2 separate regions of the Homo sapiens genome follow, and region 2 is linked to region 1. The links come from fine-mapping of genetic effects on plasma protein levels. A gene starts in region 1. The other region holds a variant in brackets. All regions are shown on one strand. Distances are from middle to middle.

The links. PIP is the chance, under the fine-mapping model, that this variant and not a neighbour inherited with it causes the effect. The UK Biobank Pharma Proteomics Project read protein levels with antibody pairs (Olink). The fine-mapping took linkage between variants from a reference panel, not from the people measured, so its PIPs are less certain.
Region 2: its variant is fine-mapped to the plasma level of the TBCC protein (UK Biobank, PIP 0.98).

Annotation. Positions count from the first base shown.
Region 1 is chr6:42,739,295-42,754,244 of GRCh38, reverse strand. It overlaps TBCC (tubulin folding cofactor C), which reads left to right and starts at 8,142. Exons shown (of 1, transcript NM_003192.3): 1 at 8,142-9,747. The coding sequence starts at 8,172. The coding sequence ends at 9,212. It also overlaps a transcript of BICRAL not described here and the pseudogene LOC124901226. RefSeq lists enhancers at 6,650-6,699, 7,086-8,049, 8,114-8,323, 8,354-8,433, 8,494-8,653 and a silencer at 7,084-7,143.
Region 2 is chr6:42,889,649-42,904,598 of GRCh38, reverse strand. RPL7L1 (ribosomal protein L7 like 1) reads right to left here. Exons shown (of 6, transcript NM_001366481.3): 6 at 14,699-14,950. It overlaps PEX39 (peroxisomal biogenesis factor 39), which reads left to right and starts at 13,778. Exons shown (of 1, transcript NM_001008739.2): 1 at 13,778-14,334. The coding sequence starts at 13,811. The coding sequence ends at 14,116. RefSeq lists a silencer at 2,841-3,070 and enhancers at 13,327-13,376, 13,437-14,286. The variant T/A (reference allele first, on the strand shown) is at 10,591.

The DNA.
Region 1 (14,950 bases):
AGCCCAGATTGTGCCACTACACTCCAGCCTGGGCAACAGAGCAAGACTCCGTCTCAAAAAAAAAAAAAAAGTTTCTGTATGTTAGCAAATTCTCATTAAAAACTTCAAACACGGCCTGTAATCCCAGCACTTTGGGAAGTGCTCATGCCTTCCCATGAAGTGTAGTGGCTCATGCCTGTAATCCCAGCACTTTGGGAAGTGCTCATGCCTTCCCATGAAGTGTAGTGGCTCATGCCTGTAATCCCAGCACTTTGGGAAGTGCTCATGCCTTCCCATGAAGTGTAGTGGCTCATGCCTGTAATCCCAGCACTTTGGGAAGTGCTCATGCCTTCTCATGAAGTGTAGGGGCTCGTGCCTGTAATCCCAGCACTTTGGGAAGCTGAGGCGGGCAGATCACCTAAGGTCAGGAGTTCAAGACCAGCCTGGCCAACATGGTGAAACCCCATCTCTACTAAAAATACAAAAATTAGCTGGGTGTGGTGGCGCACACCTGTAATCCCAGCTACTCAGGAGGCTGAGGAAGGAGAATCACTTGAACCCAGGAGGCGGGGGTTGCACTGAGCCAAGGTCGTGCCACCGCACTCCAGCCTTGGTGACAGAGTGAGACCCTGTCTGAAAAAAAACAAACAAGTTCAAACAACAGTGCAATAGAGAGGATGTCCCTCCTCCTATCTATAACTACTCCTTGCACCTGTGTTTTAAGTACCATTTCCTCCAGCTTTTCCAGGACCCTTACGTGCTTTATGTCTTCTCTCTTGTTAATTCCTACTCATGCTTTCCCGTTCAGCTCAACCCCCTCTGAAGCTTTCCATGACCATCCCAACAAGGCAACCCCCACCACTAGTGGGCTCCTTGTAACTCTTTCTTTTATAGCAATGATTGGCCAAGTGTAGTAGCTCATGCCTGTAATCCCAGCACTTTGGAAGGCCGAGGCAGGAGGATCCCTTGAAGCCAAGAGTTCAAGACCAGACTGGGCAACACAGCAAGACCCTGTCTCTACAAAAACATTTAAAAATCAGGCCAGGCATGGTGGCTCATGCCTGTAATCCTAGCACCTTGGGAGGGTGAGGTGGATGGATCACCTGAGGTCAGGAGTTCGAGACCAGCCTGGCCAACATGGTGAAACCAGTCTCTACTAAAAATACAAAAAATTAGCCAGGCATGGTGGCAAGTGCCTGTCGTCCCAGCTACTCGGCAGGCTGAGGCAGCAGAATCACTTGAACTTGGGAGGCGGAGGTTGCAGTGAGCCGAGATTGCACCACTGCACTCTAGCCTGGGTGACAGAGCAAAACTCCGTACCCCCCCAACCAAAAAAAAAAAAAAAAAAAAAAAGTCAGCTGGGGGCAGGGCACTGTGGCTCACACCTGTAATCCCAGCCCTTTGGGAAGCAGAGGCAGGTGGATCACCTAAGGTCAGGAGTTGGAGACTAGCTGGCCAACATGGCAAAACTCTGTTTCTACTAAAAATACAAAAATTAGCCACACATGGTGGTGTGTGCCTGTAATCCCAGCTACTAAGGAGGCTGGGGCAGGATAATTGCTTGAACCTGGGAGGTGGAGGCTGCAGTGAGTCAACATGGCGCCACTGCACTCCAGCCTGGGAAACAGTGAGACTCAATCTAAAAAAAAAAATTAGCTGGGCACGGTGGCATGCATCTGTAGTCCCAGCTACTCAGGAGGCTGAAATGGGAGAATTGCTTGAGCCCAGGAGTTTGAGGCTGCAGTGAGCTATAATTATGCCACTGCACTCCAGCTTGGGTGAGAGAGAGACCCAGTCTCAGCAAGCAAAGAACACATTTTACATGTTTTTGTGACTATTTGCCCAAATTAGGCCTTCTTAAGGAGGACAGGGACGATGTCTGTTTTTATCCACCTTGGCAGTCTTAGGGCCTCCCTGGCTCAGTGCTGGGCACAGTTAGTGCTTAATAAACAGATGTTTAGATAAATAAACACGTGCCAGCCTATGTGCTAGACGTTAAGTGTACAATGATGAAAAAAGTTTCAGAAGGTCAAGGGCGTTGAGGCAGAGGAGAGCGCCAGGGGCAAAGGCAGAAGGAAAAGGCTGCTCCTGTCCTGCTTCCCAACAACAGGACCTGCCTGCACAACTGTCACCTTTCACTGTCTTCCTGCCAGAAAGTAGCCAAGGTAGGAAGATTTGCCTAACATTTGATAATTTTGATGTGCACAGCTCTTTAATGAATGCTTTACATCCCATATATAGTCAAGACTTGCTGAAAGATGAATAGGTGATGCTTCTTTCTGGCATCAAACTACTAGAAAAAGGGGCTTGGCCGGGCGCGGTGACTCATGCCTGTAATCCCAGCACTTTGGGAAGCTGAGGCGGGCGGATCATCTGAGGTCAGGAGTTCAAGACCAGCCTGACCAACATGGAGAAACCCCGTCTCTACTAAAAATACAAAATTAGCCCGGCATGGTGGCGCATGCCTATAATCCCAGCCTCTTGGGAGGCTGAGGCAGGAAAATCGCTTGAACCCAGGAGGCGGGGGTTGCGGTGAGCCAAGATCATGCCACTGCACTCCAGCCTGGGCAACAAGGGCAAAACTCCGTCTCAAAAAAAAAAAAAAAAAAAAGAAAAGAAAGAAAAAGGGTCCTTTTATTTGCCTGGGTGTGGCTGGTATCTTCCACCAGTGCAGGGTCCCTGACAAACTCCAGAGAACACCGAAGGGCCTATTCCTTTATTGTTTACCATACCTAAAGACTGTTTTCCTTTGCTTAAATGCTTTCACTACTTACTTCTTGAGGCATGTAACTACAATCATGAGATTCCCTTTGTAACATTAAAAGATCAAATAAATACAACAGACGTTTAAAATTTAACAAATACTGTATAGAGATGCAACCAGCAAAATGCAGACTGTGGGAAACTCTACTGAACAAATGACCAAGCTGCTTCAACAAAACAATTTAGAGAAAAAGGAACCCACACAGTGAAAGTGATTTAAGGCTCTCCACCCAGGACACGGGTCCTCCCACGCCTGAGGCCAATGCTGCCAGGACCTTGGGGTTGGAGGGGGACTTGGCTGACCACATCTTTCAAATAAAGCTGTTTGTCTAACTAAAAAAAAAAAAAAGTGATTTAAGGGACACAATAACTAAATGCAGTGTATGGAACTTGTTTGGATCCTTATTCAAATAAAATAACTTTAAAAAAAGGAAACTGGGCAAGGGGAGGGGGAGCATTAGGACAAATACCTAATGCATACGGGGCTTAAAACCTAGATAACAGGTTGATAGGTGCAGCAAACCACCATGGCACATGTATACCGATGTAACAAAACTGCACATTCTGCACATGCATCCCAGAACTTAAAGTATTAAAAAAAAAAAAAAAAAAAAAAAAAAAAAAAGGCCGGGCGCGGTGGCTCACGCCTGTAATCCCAGCACTTTGGGAGGCTGAGGCAGGCGGATCATCTCAGGTCAGGAGTTCAAGACCAGCCTGGCCCAACATGGTGAAACCCCATCTGTACTAAAAATACAAAAAATTAGCCAGGCATGGTGGTGGGCACCTGTAATCCCAGCTACTCAGGAGGCTGAGGCATGAGAATCACTTGAACCCAGGAGGTGGAGGTTGCAGTAAGCCGAGATCGCGCCATTGCACTCCAGCCTGGGCGACAGAGCAAGACGTCGTCTTGAGAAAAAAGCAAACGTATATTATGGGATAATCAGATGTGAATATAGACTGGCAATCTGCTATTGAGAAAATATTTTCTATGCTTTTTTGGAGTGTGGTGACGGCAATGTGGCTGTCTTAAAAGGGAAGTGGCCAGGCGTGGGGGCTCACACCTGTAGTCCCAGCACTTCCAGGGGCCGAGGTGGGCAGATCACTTGAGCCCAAGAGTTTAAGACCAGCCTGGACAACACAGCAAAACCCTGTCTTTGCAAAAAAAAATACCAAATTTAGCTGGGAGTGGTGGTGCACACCTGTAGTGCCAGCTACTCAGGAGGCTAAGGTGGAAGGATCACTTCAGCCTGGGAGGTCAAGACTACAGTAAGCTGTGATTGCACCACTGCACTTTAGCCTAGGTGACAGAGTGAGACCCTGTCTCAATTTAAAAAAAAAGGGCCCAGGCACGGTGGCTCACACCTGTAATCCCAGAACCTTGGGAGGCAGAGGTGGGCAGAACATGAGGTCAGGAGTTCGAGACCAGCCTGGTCAACATAGTGAAACCCCGCCTCTACTAAAACTATATATATTAAAAAAAATTAGCCGGGCGTGGTGGTGGGCACCTGTAATCCTAGCTACTTGGGAGCCTGAGGCAGGAGAATCACTTGAACCTGGGAGGCAGAGGTTGCACAGAGCTGAGATCGTGCCACTGCACTCTGGCCTGGGCAACAGAGCGAGACTCTATCTCAAAAAAAAAAAAAAGGAACTCCCAATCTTTTAGAGGTATATAGTGAAATATTTATAGACAATAAAATATGAAATAATATAATATAAGGGATGGGCCAAAAAATAATCAGGGTGAGAGGTGGGGAAGTGACTAGGGCTTTACAGGAAACAAGATTCTCAGTTGGTAACTGTTTTTTAAAAAGTTATTATTATTTTTATTGATATATAATAATTGTACATATTTATGAGGTACATGTGATATTTTGATACATGCATATAATATGTAGTGGTCAAATTAGAATAATTGGGATATCTATTACTTCAAACATTTATCACTTCTTTGTGTTGGGAACATTTCAAATCCTTTCTTCTAGCTATTTTGAAATGTACAATACATTATTGTTAACTCGAATTAGGCTACTGTGCTATCTGACACTAGAACTTATTCCCTCTATCTAACTTGTGCCTTTGTGCCCTTTAACCAATCTCACTTCATCTCCCTCCACTTCCCAGCCTCTGGTAACTATCATTCTACACTCCAACTCCATATGATCAACTTTTTCAGTTCCCACATACGAGTGAGAACATGTGATATTTTTCTTTCTGTTCCTGGCTTATTTACTTAACATCAGTTGGCAGTTGTTGAAGCTGGGTGATGGGTATGTGAGTCCTTGGAACACTATTCTAATACCCTCTCCATGTTATATATGTTGGAAATTTTCAAAAAGTTAAAAGGGGGATCTAACAAATAGAACCATAAAGTATCTAAACTGTTGTTAAATAAACGGTAAAGTCCATAATACGTTAGAATTCTTTCATTTTTCAAGATGTCTACAAGAGAGCAGTACCTTGATTCACAAGCCCTTTGAGATATCATTGAAAGTAGGATGCAGAACTCAGAGCTGCTTGCCTTTTGCTACATTTCCCCCGTAATGCATTCCCCACTCTCCTTCCATCAAAACAGGCACTTACCTCTGACAAGCTGGGATATATTTCAAAGATGCATGCTGAATCCACTGCCCTCAAATGGCAGAGAGAGGATGCAAACACAGCCGGGCAATGCCAGCCATTTCGCAGCCTTCCTACTGTGTTTGAACTCAGAAACAGCTTTATCTCCATTTCTTGACCACATACCTCACAGCCTGCAGCTGTGCAGGGGGGCTGTAAAGAACTGTCCAGCCAATGCTTCACAATGACCGTATCACTCACTGACCCCTTTCCACTACTCCTCACATCAGTCTTTGAAACTGCCCCTAACACACCGGGTCACCTGGGTGACCTGTCAAGCTCTGTTTTTAACTGTTTCCTTTTCTTGAAAGTTCGAACTAACCAACTTCAAGTATTTAGAAACTTCCCAAGTCTACTGGATTGTAGCAAAAACCTGTTGGTAGACAGAAATGAAGTTCTTGAAAGGGTTTAATAACATTCAATTCCACTTGGGATACAGCCAACACTTACAACACCCATAGATTCACTATGCCTAATACCGAAATGTTATCTCACTCCAGCTGCAACCTCCAAGTCCAATAAACCTTCTTTAGCTACAAACGTTCTTAATTTGAGTGAGACAGGTTCAACCTGAAAAACTTAAAAGGTCAGGTTGTTTTTTTCTAGAAAAATAAATCTTCTCTAAAGCTTCTTTGCTTAAATCAACATTTCATAAAATAAAGCAGCTATTGCAATTCCTCCACGACTTGGACAATATAACTAGCTTTCTTGTCCACCAGCTTTCAGACCCACAGTTTTGTGAAATAAACCTGCTTTTCTGGAAAAAAAAAAAAAAAAAAAAAGGGCCAGGCACAGTGGCTCATGCCTGTAATCCCGGCACTATGGGAGGCCGAGGCGGGCGCATCACCTGAGGTCGGGAGTTCGAGACGAGCCTGACCAACATGGAGAAACCCCGTCTCTACTAAAAATACAAAATTAGCCGGACATGGTGGCGCATGCCTGTAGTCCCAGCTACTCGGGAGGCTGAGGCAGGAGAATCACTTGAACTCGGGAGGCGGATAGCGGTGAGCCGAGATCGCGCCATTGCACTCCAGCCTGGGCAACAACAGCATAACTCCGTCTCAAAAAAAAAAAAAAAAAACAAAATAAAACAAAAAAGCAAAAACAGAAGCCTCACCTAATCTGCCCATAAAACAAGACTAGTGAAAACGATGACTATGCACAAGAGTAAGCACCATTGTTTTTCGGCACCCCCTTTTCCATCGGGTGCACGCAGGCACGCGGACACACAAGCCTCTCCCCTGCCCCCGCGCCCCGCCTGCGCGGGGAATCTGCCACACGGTATGAACTGTGCTCTCAGCGGAGAAATACTCTGGCCCAGCAATTTATGTGTGTTTTGTTTGTTTTAAGTGGGAAGGAAAGGAAGAGAGTGGGGCGTGAAAATGGGAGATCAGTTTTAACTCAGATTTAATTCAATGGTTCGCGTTTCCTCCCATCTTTCTCTGCATCAAAATGCAGGTAGATCGGTGAAATTTCAAGTTTCTTGGGTCGTTAAATACCCCAATTTAAACGATGGAGGCTGGGAACTGGGGATATAAGGAGGAAACCTAGGGTTGGAAGGGCGGGCAGGGTTAAAGAGGTTCGGGAGCTCCGCAGATCTGAGCGAAGCATGCGAGGCTGCCGCGCCCGGGCAGCGGCTGCGTCTCGGGTTCTCGCCCTGCCCGCTGCCTCGGGTTTTTGCCAGTGACTGCGCCGTCTTGGCTGCCCACCCACACCTCGGGTTGGTCCCGACTTTAGGCTAGGCCATTCACTTCCGGTGACAAATCCCTCCCACCACCCCTAGAAATAATGTACCGCTTCTCCCACCGCTTTCCTAAGACCGACCGCCCCAGAGAGCCACGGAGCCCGGGGCTAGGGTCTCACCCCAGCGCGGCCGGCGACGCCCAGCTGCGGAGGGAGTGGCCGGGACCGAGCTCGGGGAGGGCAGGGAAGAAAGAGGAAGGGGGTGTGGATCTCACCTTCCCCCGCCCCCACCCCTCCGACTGCAGCAATTGGCCAAAAAAATAGTAATCCTTTTATGGACTCCCCCAGGGCCCCTCGAACCAGGTTGCAGTGAGGAACCCAGTCTCTCCCATCGCAGTGCCCCTTGCCTTCTCCTGCCCTAGTAACTGCCTGCGGGGATCCAGGAGCCCCCAGGCCGCGCCGAACTGCAGTGGATAGGGGGGAGGGGGGCGGTAAGGATGAGGGCTACGGGGAGGCAGAAATGGGTTGGGGGAAGGGGTGGTGGAAGGGAAAAGAAAAAACCGGAGGCATGCAAGCGGCTCCCCAGCCAGCTGTTCCAGCTGCTGCTTCCTCCGGCGCGGGCCAGGCGGTGCAATATTCCCCCCCGCTCCATCTTTCTCACCACTACCTGTCCCCCCAACCCACCACACGCACTCATCCCTCCCACCCACACCCCTAGTAGCGGATCTCCGGCCTGTAAGGGGGTAGTAGGGAGGAGCTGGGGGGAGGGGGAGGCCTGCGAGTTTCTAACCTTGTTCTTATAAACAAACCCACATGTGCAGCTGCCGCTGCTGCAACTCACCCCACAATCCCGGATATAAGTCCTGCCCCTTTAAGAGGAAAAAAAAGATTCCCCCGCCTGCCTCCCACCCCACCCATCCACAAGAACCTTTGTCTTCCCACCCCCATAGTCAGTCGGCCCCGCCCCATCTCCCCGCCCCCTCCGACGCAGAGGAACCAATAGGCGAAGAAAATAAGGCCGGGGATCTGACATCATCATGTTAGGCCAATCACCGGACGCGTTGGTGGGAGGCCTCACGGACAGCGCGCCCGGAGGAAGGAAGACAAGAGAGAGGAAGCTTGAAGCCAATATGGAGTCCGTCAGTTGCTCCGCTGCTGCTGTCAGGACCGGAGACATGGAGTCCCAGCGGGACCTGAGCCTGGTGCCTGAGCGGCTTCAGAGACGCGAACAAGAACGGCAGCTGGAAGTTGAAAGGCGGAAACAAAAGCGGCAGAACCAGGAGGTAGAGAAGGAGAACAGCCACTTTTTCGTCGCCACCTTTGTTCGGGAGCGAGCGGCCGTGGAAGAGCTTCTGGAGCGCGCGGAGTCGGTCGAGCGGCTGGAGGAGGCGGCCTCTCGGCTCCAGGGGCTGCAGAAACTAATCAACGACTCAGTTTTTTTCCTAGCCGCTTACGACCTGCGGCAGGGACAAGAGGCGCTGGCGCGGCTGCAGGCGGCCTTGGCCGAGCGGCGCCGGGGGCTGCAGCCCAAGAAGCGTTTCGCTTTCAAGACCCGGGGAAAGGATGCTGCTTCGTCTACCAAAGTAGACGCGGCTCCTGGCATCCCCCCGGCAGTTGAAAGCATACAGGACTCCCCGCTGCCCAAGAAGGCGGAAGGAGACCTCGGCCCCAGCTGGGTCTGCGGTTTCTCCAACCTGGAGTCCCAAGTCTTGGAGAAGAGAGCCAGCGAGTTGCACCAGCGCGACGTTCTTTTGACCGAACTGAGCAACTGCACGGTCAGACTGTATGGAAATCCCAACACCCTGCGGCTAACCAAGGCCCACAGCTGCAAGCTGCTCTGCGGTCCGGTGTCTACCTCTGTTTTCCTGGAGGACTGCAGTGACTGCGTGCTGGCAGTGGCCTGCCAACAGCTCCGCATACACAGTACGAAAGACACCCGCATCTTCCTGCAGGTGACCAGCAGGGCCATCGTGGAGGACTGCAGTGGGATCCAGTTCGCCCCTTACACCTGGAGCTACCCGGAGATCGACAAGGACTTCGAGAGCTCTGGTTTAGATAGGAGCAAAAATAACTGGAACGATGTTGACGATTTTAACTGGCTGGCCCGGGATATGGCCTCCCCAAACTGGAGTATTCTTCCTGAAGAGGAGCGAAATATCCAGTGGGACTAAGCAGTTGTCACTCTGTTCTTCACTCCTACCAAATACTTTCCACGTTGGACTTTCCCCCTTATTGGGTCTCGAAGTTTACTTATTGTCACACTGTGTATGTTTTCAGCATTTTAAGGCTAGAGATTGTAATGGGCTCCTACTTGTAATTTCCATTAAATTCGTAACAGGTATAACACTAAAGCATTTTTGCTATTTTCGTCATGCCTTTGAGACTGAGTCTTACTCCGTCCCCCAGCGTGGTGGCGCGCTGGGATTACAGGCGCGCGCCACCACGCGAACTTGTATTTTTAGTAGAGACGGGGTTTCGCCATGTTGTCCGGGCTGCTCTCGAACTCCTGACCTCAGGTGATCCACCCGCTTCAGCTTCCCAAAGTGCTGGCATTACAGGCGTGAGCCACCACGCCAGGGCTTTATTTATTTATTTTTACCACAATAGTTTGAAGCAGTAAGGGGGAAGGAGGGTGATTATATTGCTTTGTAATGGTTTGTGATACTTGAAACATCACGGTGCATAATAAAGTAGGTCTGCAGTAAATACATGGGTTTGTTTGGTGTGTGTGTGTGTGTGTGTGTTTTGTTTTTAAAGAGATGGGCTCTCCTTATGTTGCCCAGGCTGGTTTCGAACTCCTGACCTCAAGCAATTCTCCTGCCTCAGCCTCCCAAAACACTCGGATTATAGACAGTAACCAGCAGTGTCAGGGTATAGATACATATTTAATAAATTCCAGAGCTGAGCCCGGGGGCTCACGCCTGCAATCCCAGCACTTTGGGAGGCTGAGGTGGGCAGATCACTTGAGGTCAAGAGTTGGAGACCCGGTGCCAGGTGAAACCCCGTCTCTACTAAAAACACAAAAATTAGCCGGGCATGATAGTTCACACCTGTAGTCCCAGCTACTCAGGAGAACTGCTTGAACCTGGGAGACAGGTTGTCGTGAGCTGACATCACGCCACTGCACTCCAGCCTGTGTGGCAGAGTGAGACACTGTCTCAAAAACAAAAAACCATAGGTAATTCCTTTGTCCCTAGACATTCAGTTCCTTCGGAGAGCCATCACTCTTTACGTGTTTCTTTTTTTTTTTTTTTTTTGAGACAGAGTTTCGCTCTTGTTGCCCAGGCTGGAGTGCAGTGGCGTGATCTCAGCTCAGTGCAACCTCAGCGTCCCTGGTTCAAGTGACTCTCTTGCCTCAACCTCCCGAGCAGCTGGGATTACAGGAGCCCGCCACCATGCTCGGCTAATTTTTTGTATTTTTAATAGAGAATTTCACCATGTTGGCAAGACTGGTCTTGAACTCCTGACCTCGGCTGATCCACCTGCCTCAGCCTCCCAAAGTCCTGGGATTATAGGCGTGAGCCACTGTGCCCGGTCCTTTTTTTTTTTTTTTTCCTTTGTTTCTTTGAGACAGGGTCTGGGTGAAGGACCTTCTGGGCTCAAGATATCCTCCAACCTCAGCCTCCCAAGTAGCTGGGACTACAGGTGCACCCCATCACCCCCGGCTAATTTGTGTATTTTTTGTAGAGAGGGCTTCATCATGTTGCCCAGGCTGGTCTCGAACTCCTGAGCTCAAGCAATCTGTCCCCCGTGGTCTTCCAAGTGCTGGGTGGTGGTGCGTGTTTGTAATCCCAGCTACTCGGGATGCTGAGGCATGAGAATCCTTTGAACCTGGCAAGAAGAGGTAGCAGTGAGCCATTACTGTGCCATTGCATTTCCAGAGCAAGACTCTGTATAAAAAAAAAAAAAAGAAAAAAAAGAAAGGGGGTGGTGCCAGGCGCGGTGGCTCATCCCTGTAATCCCAGCACTTTGGGGGGCCAAGGCAGGTGGATCACCTGAGGTCAGGAGTTCGAGACCAGCCTGGCCAACAGGGTGAAACCTCGTCACTACTAAAAATACAAAAATTAGCCGGGCATGGTGGCACACACATGGAATCTCAGCTACTTGGGAGACTGAGGCAGGAGAATATCTTGAGCCCAAGAGGCAGAGGTTACAGTGTGCTGAGATTGTGGCGCTGCACTCCAGCCTGGGCGACAAGAGCAAAACTCCATCTCAAAAAAAAAAAGAAATTTTTGGGTCTTTGCCAGTTTGATGGTTACAAAATATTACCTTCCTCTACTAGTAATGGTAATCATCTCCTAACTCATCTCCCCATCTCCAATTTCTGAACTATTCTGCATACAGCTACTAAATTAGTTTTCTTAAAGTATGTCACTCCTGATCTAAAACCTTCTGAGATTCTTATTATCTGATAGACTTCCTGGCCTGGAAGACAAGCCCCTCCACCATCTGTTTCAGCCTACTGTTCTTACATGATGTTTTACTGTTTCATCACACACATTTCATGCACCAGCTAGTCTGAACTAATACCCATTAATCAAACACAATGTCAGGGCTCTGGCAGGAAACAGATGGCTTGCTCAAAATGGATACTTTGAGAAGAGCTTAATACAGGAGCTATTTACAAAGCTGTGGGCAGAGTATAAGAAAAGCAATTAGAGATGGTACAATATCTGTTACCATCCTTAGGGCTGAAGGGACAAAAATGTTACCTGAATGCAGAGAGAGATAGACAGTTATTGAGCTACCTGACAGGAGTTTCAGTCCTCAGTGGAGGGATGCTGCCAATCCATGGTGACCTGGCAGGGAGAGAGCCATGGGACTTAAACAATGTCATTCTCTTTTATTGGTGCCTCCCGTTGGTAGAGCCCAACTGGAAATTTCAGGGCAAAGAAGTCTGCTGCCGCAGTCCATATGAGTCAGCTCCCAGGATGTAGAACAGCGTGGAGAAAAATGAAGAATGGATCTGGAGGAGGAAATGGAAGACACTAAGGGCAGGCCAGCGCTGTGGCTCATGCCTGTAATCTCAGCACTTCGGGATTGCCTTGGGATTTGCCTTGGGAGGCCAAGGCAGGTGGATCACCTGAAGTCAGGAGTTTGAGACCAGCCTGGCCAACATGGTGAAATCCCGTTTCTACTAAAAATACAAAAATTAGCCGGGCATGGTGGCAGGCGCCTGTAATCCCAGCTACTCAGGAGGCTGAGGCAAGATAATCGCTTGAACCTGGGAGGAGGAGGGTACGGTGAGTCGAGACTGTACCACTGTACTCCAGCCTGAATGCCAGAGCGAAACTCCATCTCAAAAAATAAATATTCAGTGCAAATAGTTTTTGCCGTATTTCCTGGCCTTTTCTCGAGCAGTGCCCACACAGATTGGGTCCCCATGCACTTGCCAAAATTTCATACAAGACAAATGTCACTTCCTCTGGGAAATCTGGGATTTTCCTTAGTCTCTTTTGAAAATGAGGCATGGGCCAGGCTTGGTAGTTCATGCCTGTAATCTCAGCATTTTGGGAGGCCTTGGTGGGAAGATCACTTGAGCTTAGGGGTTCAAGACCAGCCTGGGTAACATAGGAAGACTCTGTCTCTACAAAAAATACAAAAATTAGCTAGGCATGGTGGCACACGCCTGTGGTCCCAGCTACTCAGGAGGCTGAGGCGGGATGATTGCTTGAACCTAGAGGTCAAGGCTACAGTGAACTGTGATTGTGCCACTGCACTCCAGCTTGGGCGACAGAGTGAGACCTTGTCTCAATAAAAAAAAAAAAATGAGGAGGCCAGGAGCGGTGGCTCACGCCTGTAATCTCAACACTTTGGGCGGCTGAGGTGGGCAGATCACTTGAGGTCAGGAGTTCGAGACCAGCCTGGCCAACTTGGTGAAACCCCGTGTCTAGTAAAAATAGAAAAATTAGCTGGGCATGGTGGTGTGCACCTATTATCCCAGCTACTCGGGAGGCTGAGGCCTGAGAATCACTTGAACCCAGGAGGCAGAGATTGCAGTAAGCCTAGATCACGCCACTGCACTCCAGCCTGGGTGGCAAAGCAAGACACTATCTCACAAAAAAAAAAAAAAAAAAAGGAAAAAGCTTAAAGAGAAACCAAGGAACGACCACTATGGGAAAGAACAGGGGAAACTTCTGGCCAATCAAAAAGTACTAAAGATTTACATAAAAGTTAGCTGTAATCTTTGAGGAGGGGAAATGAAGGAGGGAGGAGTAACTGCTTTTTCCCCAGCTTTGGTTACTGAAATTCTCCGGGGAGGGCCATTCACGCACATCTCATCAGAGATGGTAATTTCCAAGAAAGATGATTAAAAAGTTGGATGACTTTTAAGGTCCTTGAGCAGAGGAATGCTTATGGACATTACCAAGAACATTCCATAGAAGTTGCAGTTTAATAAACATTAGCAAATCCAGTTCATGCACAAATTTCTCCCAAGGAGCATTGACAGTTTAGCTTTTTTGTTGTTGTTGTTTTTTACAACAGGGTCTCACTCTGTTGTCTAGGCTGGAGTGCAGTGGTGCAATTATGGCTCACTGCAGCCTTGACCTCCCAGGCTCAAGCAATTATCCTACCTCAGCATCCTAAGTAGCCACCACACTTGGCTAATTTTTTTACTTTTTTTTGGAGAGCTGGGATGTCACCATGTTGCCCAGGCTGGTCTTGAACTCCTAGGCTCAAGGGATCCTCCCACCTTGGCCTCCCAAAGTGTTGAGGTTACAAGTGAGAACAAGCCAATTTAACTTTTTGACTGGGTACATGTTTAGTTTATGTTTGTTATTTATTTGTATTTTATTTTATTTTAATTTCTCTTTTTTTTTTTTTTTTTTGAGACGGAGTCTCGCTCTGTCGCCCAGACTGGAGTGCAGTGGCGCGATCTCGGCTCGCTGCAAGCTCCGCCTCCCGGGTTCACGCCATTCTCCTGCCTCACCCTCCCGAGTAGCTGGGACTACAGGCGCCCGCCACCACACCCAGCTAATTTTTTGTATTTTTAGTAGAGACGGGGTTTCACTACGTTAGCCAGGATGGTCTCGATCTCCTGACCTCATGATCCGCCCGCCTCGGCCTCCCAAAGTGCTGGGATTACAGGCGTGAGCCACCGTGGCTGGCCCACGCCCAGCTAATTTTTGTATTTTTAGTAGAGATGGGGTTTCACCATGTTGTCCGGGCTGGTCTCGAACTCCTGACCTCAGGTGATCCACCCACCTCTGTCTCCCAAAGTGCTGGGATTACAGGCATGAGCCACTGCGCCTGGCTGATTTTAGTTTCTCTTAATCTTCAATTTTGGTATGGTCATGGCATGAAATGTGTTTCCTGCCATGGAAACCCAAACTATAACATTACATCTCTGGAAACTATGGGCTAGACTTGACTTGGGTTCAATTGTGACTGACGTTAAAGAACCAACTGACTTCTTCAGTCCAATAACAGCTGTAAGACTGGGATACTGGGGCCGGGCGCAGTGGCTCACGCCTGTAATCTCAGCATTTTGGGAGGCTGAGGTGGGAGGATCACCTGAGGTCAGGAGTTCGAGACCAGCCTGGCCAACATGGCGAAACCCCATCTCTACTAAAAATACAAAAATTAGCCGGGCGTGGTGCATGCCTGTAATCCTGGCTACTCAGGAGGCTGAGGCAGCAGAATCATGTGAACCTGGGAGGCAGATGTTGTAGTGAGCTGAGATCGTGACACTGCACTGCAGCATGGGTGACAGAGCAAAACTCTGTCTCAAGGGAAAAAAGAAAAAAGAAGAAAAAACTGGGATATGTCCCCAGGGGCCTTAATAAAAAGTACTGGATGGGGCAGTAGCTCACCCCTGTAATGCCAGCACTTTGGGAGACTGAGGTAGGAGGATCACTTGAGCCCAGGAGTTAGAGACCAGCCTGGGCAACATGAGACCCTATCTCTA
Region 2 (14,950 bases), 150 kb before region 1:
GATCCTCCCACCTCAGCCTCCCATGTAGCTGGGACTGCGGGTGCATGTCACCACACCCGGCTAATTTTATTCTTTTTTGTAGAAACGGGATTTTGCTCTCTGGTTCAGGTTGGAGACTCAAGCTCCTGGGCTCAAGCAATCCTCCTGCCTTGGCCTCCCCAAAGTGCTGGCAGTACAGGCCTGAGGTACCACTCCCAGCCTGCATTCAGAGTTTTTTCTTTCTTTTTTTTTTTTTTATCAGAGTTCCATTACATAGGCATAGTTGATTAAATCACTGGCTGGAGATTCAGTTCCATTTCCCCTCCCTGAACCTCAAGTGGATTGAATCCCCAATCTCTAATCACAGAGTTGGTCTTTCTGATATGGTCAGCTCCTATCCTGAAACTGCTTATGGCCCACCATGAGTCACCGAATTAGCATAAACTATCTGGGCCATAAATATCACTCTTAGTACTTGAGAAATTCTAAGGATTGAGTCTCCCTCCCAAGCACCAGGGACAAAGGCCAAATTCTATTTTTTTTTTTTTTTTTTTTTTTTTTGAGATGGAGTCTCACTCTATCGCCCAGGCTGGAGTGCAGTGGTGCAATCTCCACTCACTGCAAGCTCCACTCCCAGGTTCACGCCATTCTCCTGCCTCAGCCTGTCGAGTAGCTGGGACTACAGGCGCCCGCCACCACGCCTGGCTAATTTTTTTGTATTTTTAGTAGAGACAGGGTTTCACCGTGTTAGCTAGGATGGTCTCGATCTCCTGATCTCAGGTGATCCACCCGCCTCGGCCTCCCAAAGTGCTGGGATTACAGGCGTGAGCCACCGTGCCCGGCCAATTTTTGTATTTTTAGTGGAAATGGAGTTTCTCCATGTTGGTCAGCCTGGTCTCGAACTCCTGATCTCAGGTGATCTGCCCGCCTCAGCCTCCCAAAGTGCTAGGATTACAGGCGTGAGCCACCATACCCAGCCTACGCCAAACTTGTAGGGAAAAGAGAGAGAGATCAGACTGTTACTGGGTCTACATAGAAAAGGAAGACATAAGAAAGTCCATTTTGATCTGTACCCTGAACAATTGTTTTGCCTGGAGATGCTGTTAATCTGTAACTTTAGCCCCAACCTTGTGCTCACAGAAATATGTGTTGTATGGAATCAAGGTTTAAGGGATCTAGGGCTGTGCAGGATGTGCCTTGTTAACAAAACGTTTACAGGCAGTATGCTTGATAAAAGTCATCGCCATTCTCCATTCTCGATTAACCAGGGGCACAATGCACTGCAGAAAGCCACAGGGACCCCTGCCCAGGAAAGCCAGTATTGTCCAAGGTTTCTCCCCACTGAGACAGCCTGAGGTATGGCCTCGTGGGACGGGAAAGACCTGACCATCCCCCAGCCCAACACCCGTGAAGGGTCTGTGCTGAGGAGGATTAGTAAAAGAGGAAGGCCTCTTGCAGTTGAAATAAGAGGAAGGCCTCTGTCTCCTGCATGCCCCTGGGAACGGAATGTCTCAGTATAAAACCCGATTGTACATTCGTTCTATTCTGAGATAGGAGAAAACCGCCCTGTGGCTGGAGGTGAGATATGCTGGTGGCAATACTGCTCTGTTATTCTTTACTACACTGAGATGTTTGGGTGGAGAGAAGCATGAGTCTGGCCTATGTGCACATCCAGGCATAGTACCTTCCCTTGAACTTATTTGTGACACAGATTCCTTTGCTCACATGTTTTCTTGCCAACCTTCTCCCCGCTATCACCCTGTTCTGCCACATTCCCCTTGCTGAGATAGTGAAAATAATAATCAGTAAATACTGAGGGAACTCAGAGACGGGGGCCGGTGCAGGTCCTCTGTATGCTGAGCGCCAGTCTCCTGGGCCCCACTGTTCTTTCTCTATACTTTGTCTCTGTGTCTTATTTCTTTTTTTAGTCTCTCGTCCCACCTGACGAGAGATACCCACAGGTGTGGAGGGGCAGGCCACCCCTTCATCTGCCGCCAATGTGGGTGCCTTTCTCTAAGGTGAAGGTACATTAAGAACGTGAGCATTGAGGACAGTCGACGAGAGATTCCCGAGTACGTCCACCGTCAGCCTTGCGGTAAGCTTGTGTGCTCGGAGGAACCCAGGGTAACAATGGGACAAACTGAAAGTAAATATGCCTCTTATCTCAGCTTCATTAAAATTCTTTTAAGAAGAGGGGGAGTTAGGGCTTCTACAGAAAATCTAATTACGCTATTTCAAACAATAGAACAATTTTGCCCCTGGTTTCCAGAACAGAGAACTTTAGATCTAAAAGATTGGGAAAAAAATTGGCAAAGAATTAAAACAAGCAAATAGGGAAGGTAAAATCATCCTACTTACAGTATGGAATGATTGGGCCATTATTAAAGCAACTTTAGAACCGTTTCAAACAGAAGAAGATAGCATTTCTGCTGCCCCTGAAAGCTGTGTAATAGATTGTGAAGAAGAGGCAGAGACAGAGTTTAGGAAAGGAATGGAAAGTTCACATTGTAAATATGTAGCAGAGTCTGTAATGGCTTGGTCAACGCAAAATGTTGACTACAATCAATTAAAGGAGGTAATATATCATGAATAATCAAAATTGGGGGAAGGAGGTCCAGAATTATTGGGGCCATCAGAGCCTAAACCACGATGGCCATCAACTCCTCCCGTGGTTCAGATACCTGTAACATTACAACCTCAAAGGGAGGTTAGACAAGTACAAACCCCAAGAGAATATCAAGTAGAAAAGGATAGAGTCTCTATCCCGGCAATGCCAATTCAGATGCAGTATCCACAATATAAGCTGGTAGAAAATAAGACCCAACCACCAGTAATTTATCAGTACTGGCCGCCAGCCGACCTTCAGTATCGGCCACCTCCAGAGGTTAAATACAGACCTCAAGTGGTGTGTCCTGTGCCAAATAGCACGGCACCATACCAGCAACCCACGGCAGTGGTGTTTAATCCTACCGCACCACCTAGTGGACAAGGTAGTACACTGCATGAAATTATTGATAAAGCCAGTAAACAGGGAGATCTTGAGGCATGGGAGTTCCCGGTAATTTTACAACCGATACCGGCCGGGAAAGGGACTCTAGCAGGAGCGTCTGTCCAAACTGAAGCTAGATATGAATCTTTCACCATGAAAATGTTAAAAGATATGAAGGAAGGAGTTAATATGGACCCAACTCCCCTTATGTGAGAACATTATTAGATTCCATTGTTCATGGAAATAGACTTATTCCTTATGACTGGGAAATTTTGGCTAAATCTTCCCTTTCACCCTCTCAGTTTCTACAGTTTAAACCGTGGTGGATCGATGGAGTACAAGAACAGGTACGAAAAAATCAGGTTACTAACCCCACTGTTAATATAGATGCAGACCAATTGCTAGGAACAGGTCCAAATTGGAGCACCATTAACCAACAATCAGTAATGCAGAACACCTGTTGAACACCTAAGGGCTATTGAACACCTAAGGGCTATTTGCCTCAGGGCCTGGGAAAAAATTCAGGACCTGGGAACCACCTGCCCTTCTTTTAATTCAATTAGACAAGTCTCTAAAGAGCCATATCCAGACTTTGTGGCAAGGTTGCAAGATGCTGCTCAAAAATCTGTTACAGATGATAACGCCCGAAAAGATATTGTAGAATTAATGGCCTATCAAAATGCAAATCCAGAATGTCAATCGGCCATAAAGCCATTAAAAAGAAAAGTTCCAGCAGGAGTTGATGTAATTACAGAATAAGTGAAGGCTTATGATGGGATTGGAGGAGCTATGTATAAAGGCAATGCTAATGGCTGAAGCAATAGCGGGAGTCGCTTTAGGAGGACAAGTTAGAACATTTGGGAAAAAATGTTATAATTGTGGTCAAATCGGTCATCCGAAAAGGAGTTGCCCAGTCTTAAGTAAACAGAATATAATAAATCAAGCTGGCCGGGCACGGTGGCTCACACCCGTAATCCCAGCACTTTGGGAGGCCGAGGCTGGTAGATCACAAGGTCAGGAGGTCGAGACTATCCTGGCTAACATGGTGAAACCCCATCTCTACTAAAAATACAAAAAATTAGCCAGGCGTGGTGGCGGGTGCCTATAGTCCCAGCTACTCGGGAGGCTGAGGCAGGAGAATGGCATGAACCCAGGAGGCAGAGCTTGCAGTGAGCCGAGATCGCACCACTGCACTCCAGCCTGGGCAACAGAGCCAGACTCCGTCTCAAAAAAAAGAAAAATATAAATATAAATAAATCAAGCTATAACGGCAAAAAATAAAGAGCCACCTGGCCTGTGTCCAAAATGTGGAAAAGGAAAACATTGGGCTAATCAATGTCATTCTAAATTTGATAAAGATGGGCAACCATTGTTGGGGAAATGGGAAGAGGGGCCAGCCTCAGGCCCCGCAACAAATTGGGGCATTCCGATTCAGCCGTTTGTTCCTCAGGGTTTTCAGGGACAAAAACTCCCGCAGGAAATACCACCACTTCAGGGAGTCAGCCAATTACAACAATACAACAGCTGTCCCCTGCCACAGCAGGCAGCGCAGCAGTAGATTTGTGTTCTACTCAAATGGTTTCTTTACTCCCTGGAGAGCCCCCGCAAAAGATTCCTACAGGGGTATATGGCCCGCTGCCAGAAGGGACGGTAGGCCTTATTTTAGGGAGATCAAGTCTAAATTTGAAGGGAGTCCAAATTCATACTGGTGTAATTGATTCAGATTATAAAGGGGAAATTCAGTTAGTGATCAGCTCCACTGTTCCCTGGAGTGCCAATCCAGGTGATAGAATTGCACAATTACTGCTTTTGCCTTGTATTAAAATTGGGAAAAACAAAACGGAAAGAACAGGAGGGTTTGGAAGTACCAACCCTGCCGGAAAAGCCGCTTATTGGGCTAGTCAGGTCTCAGAGGATAGACCCGTGTGTGCAGTCACTATTCAGGGAAAGCAGTTTGAAGGATTAGTGGATACTGGGTGATGGTGCTATCATTGCCTTAAATCAATGGCCCCAAAATTGGCCTAAACAAAAGCCTGTTACAGGACTTGTCGGCGTAGGCACTGCCTCAGAAGTGTATCAAAGTGCCATGAGTTTACATTGTCTAGGACCTGATGATCAAGAAAGTACAGTTCAGCCTATGATCACTTCTATTCCAATTAATTTATGGGGCCGAGACTTGTTACAACAATGGCATGCAGCGATTACTATCCCAGCCCCCAATACAGCCCCACGAGTCAAAAAATCATAACTAAAATGGGATATCTCCCTGAAAAGGGACTAGGAAAGAATGAAGACAGCATTAAAGTCCCAATTGAGGCTGAAAAAACTCAAAAAAGAAAAGGAATAGGGTATCCTTTTTAAGAGCGGCCACTGTAGAGCCTCCAAAACCCATTCCATTAACTTGGAAAACAAAAAAACCTGTATGGGTGAATCAGTGGCTGCTACCAAAACAAAAGCTGGAGGCTTTACACTTATTAGCAAAGGAACAATTAGAAAAGGGACATATTGAGCCTTCATTTTCGCCTTGGAATTCTCCTGTGTTTGTAATTCAGAAAAAATCCGGCAGATGGCGCGTGCTGACCGACTTAAGAGCCGTTAATGCTGTAATTCAACCCATGGGGGCTCTCCAACCTGGGTTGCTCTCTCCGGTCATGATCCCCAAAGATCGGCCTTTAGTTATAATTGATCTGAAGGATTGCTTTTTTACCGTTCCTCTGGCAAAACAGGATTTTGAAAAATTTGCTTTTACTATACCAGCCATAAATAATAAAGAACCAGCCACCAGGTTTCAGTGGAAAGTGTTGCCTCAGGGAATGCTTAATGGTCCAACTATTTGCCAGACTTTTGTAGCTCAAGCTCTTCAACCAATTAGAGACAGTTTTCAGACTCTTATATCATTCATTATGTTGATGATATTTTGTGTGCTACAGAAAGGAGAGACAAATTAATTGACTGTTACACATTTCTGCAGACAGAGGTTGCAAACGCAGGACTGACGACAGCATCTGATAAGATTCAAACCTCTACTCCTTTCCATTACTTGGAAATGCAGGTGGAGGAAACGAAAATTAAACCATAAAAAATAGAAATAAGAAAAGACACATTAAAAACATTAAATGACTTTCAAAAATTGCTAGGAGATATTAATTGGATTCAGCCAACTCTAGGCATCTCTACTTATGCCATGTCAAATTTGTTCTCTATCTTAAGAGGGGATCCAGAATTGAATAGTAAAAGAACATTAACTCCAGAAGCAACTAAAGAAATTGAATTAGTTGAAGAAAAAATTCGGTCAGCACAAGTAAATAGAATAGATCACTTAGCCCCACTCCAACTTTTGATTTTTGCTACTGCACATTCTCCAACAGGCATTATTGCTCAAAATACAGATCTTGTGGAGTGGTTCTTCCTTCCTCATAGTACAATTAAGACTTTTACATTGTACTTGGATCAAATGGCTACATTAATTGGTCAGGCAAGATTACGAATAATAAAATTGTGTGAAAGTGACTCAGATAAAATCATTGTTCCTTTAAACAAGGAACAGGTTAGACAAGCCTTTATCAATTCTGGTGCATGGCAGATTGGTCTTGCTGATTTTGTGGGAATTATTGACAATCATTACCCAAAAACAAAAATCTTCCAGTTTTTAAAATTGACTACTTGGATTTTACCTAAAATTACTAGACATAAACCTTTAGAAAATGCTCTGACAGTGTTTACTGATGGTTCCAGCAATGGAAAAGCGGCTTACACCAGGCCAAAAGAACGACTCATTGAAACTCAATATCACTGGGCTCAAAGAGCAGAGTTGGTTGCTGTCATTACAGTGTTACAAGATTTTAATCAGCCTATTAACATTGTATCAGATTCTGCATATGTAGTACAGGCTACAAAGGATGTTGAGACAGCCCTAATCAAATATAGTATAGATGATCAGTTAAACCAGCTGTTTAATATGTTACAACAAACTGTAAGAAAAAGAAATTTCCCATTTTATGTTACTCATATTCGAGCACATACTAATTTACCAGAGCCTTTAACTAAAGCAAATGAACAAGTTGACTTGCTAGTATCATCTGCATTCCTGGAAGCACAAGAACTTCATGCCTTGACTCATGTAAATGCAACAGGACTAAAAAATAAATTTGACATCACATGGAAACAGGCAAAAAATATTGTACAACATTACACCCAGTGTCAGATTCCACACCTGCCCACTCAGGAGGCAGGAGTTAATCCCAGAGGTCTGTGTCCTAATGCGTTATGGCAAATGGATGTCACACATGTACCTTCAGTTGGAAAATTGTCATTTCTCCATGTGACAGTTGATGCTTATTCACATTTTGTAAGGGCAAACTGCCAGACAGGAGAAAATACTTCCCATGTTAAAAGACATTTATTATCTTGTTTTGCTGTCATGGGAGTTCCAGAAAAAATTAAAACGGATAATGGGCCAGGATACTGTAGTAAAACATTTCAAAAATTCTTAAATCAGTGGAAAATTACACATACAACAGGAATCCCTTATAATTCCCAAGGACAGGCCATAATTGAAAAAACTGATAGAACACTCAAAGCTCAATTGGTTAAACAAAAAAAGGAAAAAAGACAGTAAGGAGTATAACACTCCCCAGATGCAACTTAATCTAGCACTCTATACTTTAAATTTTTTAAACATTTATAGAAATCAAACCACTACTTCTGCAGAACAACATTTTACTGGTAAAAAGAATAGCCCACATGAAGGAAAACTGATTTGGTGGAAAGACAAGAAAAATAAGACATGGGAAATAGGGAAGGTGATAACATGGGAGAGAGGCTTTGCTTGTGTTTCACAAGGAGAAAATCAGCTTCCTGGTTGGATACCCACTAGAAATTTAAAGTTCTACAATGAACCCCTTGGAGATGCGAAGAAAAGCGCCTCTGCGGAGACAAAAAACCCTCAATTGAGCATCATCGACTCGCCAGGTAAATAAAATGGTGATATCAGAAGAACAGATGAAGTTGCCATCCACCAAGGAAGCGGAGCCACCGACTTGGGCCCAATTAAAGAAGCTGACACAGTTAGCTAAAAAAAGCCTAAAGAACACAAGGGTAATGTGAACTCCAGAGAATATACTGCTTACAGCTTTGATTATTATATCAACGGTAGTAAGTCTCCCCATGTCTGCAGGAGCAGCTGCAACTAATTATACTTACTGTGCCTATGTGCCTTTCCCACCCTTAATTTGGGCAGTCACATGGATGGATAATCCTGTTGAAGTATATGTTAATAATAGGGCATGGGTACCAGGCCCCACAGACGATTGTTGCCCTGCCCAACCTAAAGAAGAAGGAATGATGATAAATGTTTCCACTGGGTATCATTATCCTCCTATTTGCCTAGGGAAGGCACCAGGATGTTTAATGCCTACAACCCAAAACTGGTTGGTAGAAGTACCTACCGTCAGTGCCACCAGTAAATTTACTTATCACATGGTAAGTGGAATGTCACTCGGGCCACAGATAAATAATTTAGAGGACGCTTCTTATCAAAGATCATTAAAATCTGGGCCTAAGGGGAAGCCTTGCCCCAAGGAAATTCCCAAAGAATCAAAAAGCCCAGAAGCCTTAGTTTGGGAAGAATGTGTGGCTAATACTGCGGTGGTATTACAAAACAATGAATTTGGAACTACTATAATATTATATAATAGTTATATATTATATTATATTATATACAATTATATTATATATAATTGTATGGGCCAGACTCACTCATGTTTACAGGCCCCATCCATCTGGCCCATTAATCCGGCCTATGATAGTGATTTAATTGAAAGGCTGGACCAGGTTTATAGAAGGCTAGAATCACCCTATCCCTGGAAATGGGGTGAAAAGGGAATTTCATCACCTCGACCAAAGTTAGTTAGTCCTGTTACTGGTCCTAAACATCCAAAATTATGGAAGCTTACTGTGGCCTCGCACTACATTAGAATTTGGTCTGGAAATCAAGCTACAGAAACAAGAAATCGTAAGCCATATTATACTATCAACCTAAATTCCAATCTGACAATTCCTTTACAAAGTTGTGTAAAACCCCCTTATATGCTAGTTATAGAAAACATAGTTATTAAACCAGATTCCCAAACTATAACCTGTGAAAACTGTAGATTGTTTACTTGCATTGATTTGACTTTTAATTGGCAGCGCCATATTCTGCTAGTGAGGGCAAGAGAAGGTGTGCGGATCCCTGTGTCCATGGACCGACAGTGGGAGGCTTCGCCATCTTCCATATTTTAACGGAAGTATTAAAAGGAATTCTAACTAGATCCAAAAGATTTTTACTTTGATTGCAGTGATTATGGGCCTTATTGCAGTCACAGCTACTGCTGCAGCTGCTGGAATTGCTTTACACTCCTCTGTTCAAACTGCAGAATATGTAAATGATTGGCGAAAGAATTCCTCAAAATTGTGGAATTCTCAGACCCAAATAAATCAAAAATTGGCAAACGAAATTAATGATCTTAGACAAACTGTCATTTGGCTGGGAAATAGGCTCATGAGCTTGGAATATCTTTTTCAGTTACAGTGTGACTGGAATATGTCAGATTTTTGTATTACACCCCAAGCCTATAATGAGTCTGAGCATCACTGGGACATGGTTAGATGCCATCTACAGGGAAGAGAAGATAATCTTACTTTAGATATTTCAAAATTAAAATAACAAAATTTTGAGGCATCGAAAGCCCATTTAAATTTGGGAACTGAGGCAATCGTGAAAGCTACTGATGGCCTCACAAATCTTAACACTGTCACTTGGTTAAAAACCATCAGAAGTTCCACTATTGTAAATTTCATATTAATCCTTGTATGCCTGTTCTGTCTGTTGTTAGTCCACAGGTGTATCCACCAGCTCCGAAGAGACAGCGACCAGCAAGAACGGGCCATAACGACGATGGCAGTTTTGTCAAAAAGGGGGATATGTAGGGAAAAGAGAGATCCGACTGTTACTGTGTCTACATAGAAAAGGAAGACATAAGAAACTCCATTTTGATCTGTACCCTGAACAATTGTTTTGCCTTGAGATGCTGTTAATATGTAACTTTAGCCCCAACCTTGTGCTCACGGAAATATGTGTTGTATGGAATCAAGGTTTAAGGGATCTAGGGCTGTGCAGGATGTGCCTTGTTAACAAAATGTTTACAGGCAGTATGCTTGGTAAAAGTCATCGCCATTCTCCATTCTCGATTAACCAGGGGCACAATGCACTGCAGAAAGCCACAGGGACCTCTGCCCAGGAAAGCCAGGTATTGTCCAAGGTTTCTCCCCACTGAGACAGCCTGAGGTATGGCCTCGTGGGACGGGAAAGACCTGACCATCCCCCAGCCCGACACCCGTGAAGGGTCTGTGCTGAGGAGGATTAGTAAAAGAGGAAGGCCTCTTGCGGTTGAGATAAGAGGAAGGCCTCTGTCTCCTGCATGCCCCTGAGAACGGAATGTCTCAGTATAATACCCGATTGTACATTCGTTCTATTCTGAGATAGGAGAAAACCGCCCTGTGGCTGGAGGCGAGATATGCTGGTGGCAATACTGCTGTGTTATTCTTTACTACACTGAGATGTTTGGGTGGAGAGAAGCATA[T/A]ATCTGGCCTATGTGCACATCCAGGCATAGTACCTTCCCTTGAACTTATTTGTGACACAGATTCCTTTGCTCACATGTTTTCTTGCTGACCTTCTCCCCGCTATCACCCTGTTCTCCTGCTGCATTCCCCTTGCTGAGACAGTGAAAATAATAATCAGTAAATGCTGAGGGAACTCAGAGACTGGGGCCAGTGCAGGTCCTCCGTACGCTGAGCGCTGGTCTCCTGGGCCCAGTGTTCTTTCTCTATACTTTGTCTCTGTGTCTTATTTCTTTTTTTAGTCCCTCGTCCCACCTGACGAGAAATACCCGCAGGTGTGGAGGGGCAGGCCACCCCTTCAAAATTCTTTATTATACAACATTCAATATGGTCAGTTTCCTCCAGACTGGCTTCTCAAGCTCTTACCAAGTGCCCCCTACCCCAATTTTTTTTTTTTTAACAGAGTCTCTGTTGCTCAGGCTAGAGTGCAGTGGAACAATCTTGGCTCACTGCAGCCTCAACCTCCTGAGCTCAAGTGATACTCCAGCCTCAGCCTTCCAAGTAGCTGGAACTACTGGTGTGTGCCACCACATCCAGCCAATTTTTGTTTTTGGAGGGGGTCTCACTATGTTGCCCAGGTTAGTCTTGAACTCCTGGGTTCAAGTGATCCTCCTGCCTTGACCACTCCCAAAGTGCTGGGATTATAGGCGTGAGCCACTGCACCGGGCCTACCCCAACTTTTTATTTTGACAAGTTTCAAACCCTCACGTGGATTCACTAATTCTTAGCAATTTTGCCACATTTGCTTTCTTTCTGTCATCATGACACTTCACCTCTACATACTTCAGAATGTATTTGCTATGAACAAGGTAATTCCCACACATAACCACAATTATCACACTTGATAAATTTAACATTGATATATCGTTGTCATCTAATATATGGATCATATTCAAATTTCCCCAAGGGTAAAATGTCCTTTAGAGCTGATCTCCCCTACACAATCTTGCATCTAATCCAGGATCACTCATTGAATTTATTTATTTATTTATATTTTATTTTATTTTTGGAGACAGAGTTTCACTCTGTCTCCCAGTCGGAAGTTGCTGGCAATCACAGCTCAGTGCAACCTCCACCTACCCGGGTTCAAGCGATTCTTCGACCACTGCCTCCAGAATAGCTGGGACTACAGGTGTCCACCACCATGTTCAGCAATTTTTTTTTTTTGTATTTTTTAGTAGAGATGGGGTTTTGCTATATTGCCCAGGCTGGTCTTGAATTCCTGAGTTCAAGCAATCCACCGACCTCAGCCTCCCAAAGTGCTGGGATTAAAGGCATGAGCCACTGTGTCTGGCCTGTATTTATTTTTTATGTCTCCTTTAATCTGGGGTAGTTCTTAGCTTTTTCTTAATGTTTTATAACAACGACATCTGTAAAGTGTCCAGACCAATCATTTTGCAGAATCTCTCTCACTTTGATCTCTATTTCCTCAAGACTAGGTGGTGAGTGAACATTTTTTGGGCATTTTGGGGAGGACTACTACAGAAATGTACTCCCCGTGTGTGTGTCCTTCCCAGTGCATCACATCAGAAGGCACACAAGGCCAGTTTGTCCTATTAAGCTTTTTTTTTTTTTTTTTTTTTGAGACTGAGTCTCACTCTGTTGCCCAGGCTGGAGTGCAGTGGTGTGATCTCATCTCACTGCAACCTCCCTGCCTCCTAGGTTCAAGCAATTCTTCTGCCTCAGCCTCCCAAGTAGGTGGGATTACAGGTGCGCACCACTATGCCTGGCTAATTTTTTTGTATTTTTAGTAGAGATGGGGTTTCGCCATGTTGGCCAGGCTGGTCTCAAACTCCTGATCTCAGGTGACCTGCCCACCTCAGCCTCCCAAAGTGCTGGGATTACAGGTGTGAGCCACCACGCCTGGCCATTAAGCTTTGATTCTTTGATTAAGGTGATGTTCACCAGATCAGTCTAGCTTTTGATACTTTTTTTTTTTTTTTTTGAGACAGAGTTTTGCTGTGTCACCGAGGGTAGAGTGCAGTGCTGCAATCTCAGCTCACTGCAACTTCTGCCTCCCAGGTTCAAGCGATTCTCCTGCCTCAGCCTCCTGAGTAGCTGGGATTACAGGTGCATGCCACCACACCCAGCTAATTTTTGTATTTTTAGTAGAGACGGGGGTTGCCCCATGTTGGTCAGGCTGGTCTCAAACTCCTGACCTTGAGATCCACCTGCCTCCACCTCCCAAAGTGCTGGGATTACAAGTGTGAGCCACCGTGCCCGGCCACTTTTGATAATTTAAAAACCTGACTTTCCGAGCAGTCAGAGCAGCTGTAGCACATCTGACCTGCTTTCACCTTCGATCTTCTCTGGGACCACCAAGAATTGAAGGATGGCAGGAAGTGTGAAGAAAGTGGTGAGGCTCTGGCTGGGTGCGGTGGCTCACACCTGTAATCCCCGCACTTTGGAAAGCTGAGGCGGGTGCATCACTTAAGGTCAGGAGTTCGAGACTAGCCTAGCCAACATGGTGAAACCCTGTTTCTACTAAAAATACAAAAATTAGCTGGGCTTGGTGGCATACACCAGCTACTAGGGAGGCTGAGGCACTAGGGACCCTGTGGATCGCTTGAACCAGGAGGCGGAGGTTGCAGTGCGCTGAGATCGCATCGCTGCACTCCGGCCTGGGCAACAGAGTGAGACTCCGTCTAAAACAACACAAAACAATAATAACAACTAAGAGAGTAGCGTGGCTTGGTGGCGGTGTCACTCCTGAGGCCTCTGGGAACAACTCTACAGTTATGCTTTGTCCCGTGCTGCGGAGCCTAGTATGGGGATTATCCCCCGCCATGCGTTGTATCTGAATCCTTGTACGCGCGCCCGGGGGTGTGCATGAAAATGGGCATGTGCGCGGTGCTTATGTATGTATGGGTCTTTTTGCCCGCAGCGGCGCGTCCGCAGGCTTGTTCTGTCCTGTGCTAGCCTTCAAGTTTTGGCACGTCCGTCCGTTTTTCTTCTTTGGCGCGTCCGTTGGGCACTCTGGGTTTGGCTAAATCGTGGACGCTTCTAAAGCGTTTCTGCAGGGAGCTGGTCAGAGTTGTCAAGTGCTCCCCCAGTTCTGGGCCGGCTTGGTACGGTCTACAGCCTCCCTTTCCTTTCCCCACCTCCCCCATGGTGGTTGCACCCATTCGGCCCGGAAGTGCTCGCTTCTCTGCATTACACGCCGGTCAGGATTCGCGACCCGACATGGAGCGTCCCCGCAGTCCCCAATGCTCGGCCCCGGCCTCTGCCTCAGCTTCGGTTACCCTGGCGCAGCTCCTGCAGCTGGTCCAGCAGGGCCAGGAACTCCCGGGCCTGGAGAAACGCCACATCGCGGCGATCCACGGCGAACCCACAGCGTCCCGGCTGCCGCGGAGGCCCAAGCCCTGGGAGGCCGCGGCTTTGGCTGAGTCCCTTCCCCCTCCGACCCTCAGGATAGGAACGGCCCCGGCGGAGCCTGGCTTGGTTGAGGCAGCGACTGCGCCTTCTTCATGGCATACAGTGGGCCCCTGAGGTTCCAGGTCCTTTGCGGCGGCGATCTGGAGGGCGTGGCTACAGGACCCGGGATGCCATTCAGTTACTCATCTTTTATGCTTTCGTCCTGACCTGTCTCAACTAGACTTGCTCCTGCAACCACCATGGGGGTTTTGCATTTACATTTGTGGACCATGTTACAGTTAAGAAAAATCCTGTTTCAGTCCTTATATGTAATAAAATGTTTTATGATGTAACTTGGCCCCAGAATGATTTTGAAGATACATTAAAGGAAAGCCCAAAGCATTTAAAAAAGCCAACCAAGAAAGACTAAAATCTTGGCTCTTGGAATCAGCTGGATCAGGCAAGGGGCTAGAGAATTAGAGCATTAGAAAGGCTCCCACAGCCACCCTGAAATCAGTCCTTTTATGTTAAGCAGGCCACCTGGCTCAGTGCCTACATACTCAACACTAGATTTTACTTTCTCTACAAAAGCTAGAATGTACCTGGTACGTGCTGACATGACCCTAACCCACAGACGATGTAACAGGTCTACCTTTTCTCAGAAAGGATTGTCTCACAACTTGTTCAACGAATTAGTTATGTCATGGTACATACATATAAGTGCGCAATTTTTGTAACATCTTTTATTTGTATACAATTATAAATTACAAACTTGTTTTATTAGGTTTTTTAAAATTTATTTTTCGTCAACTTAGTCCCTTTTATTTACCAGCAGTTTGCTCTGACAGAATAAATTACAAACTATTGTTTTGTTTAATCCCTTTAACCATCATGTCAGGCACACAGGTTGGAGAATATTAGCTCCCATTTTATGGACAGAGTGGAAACACTGTACCCATATTTAGTGTA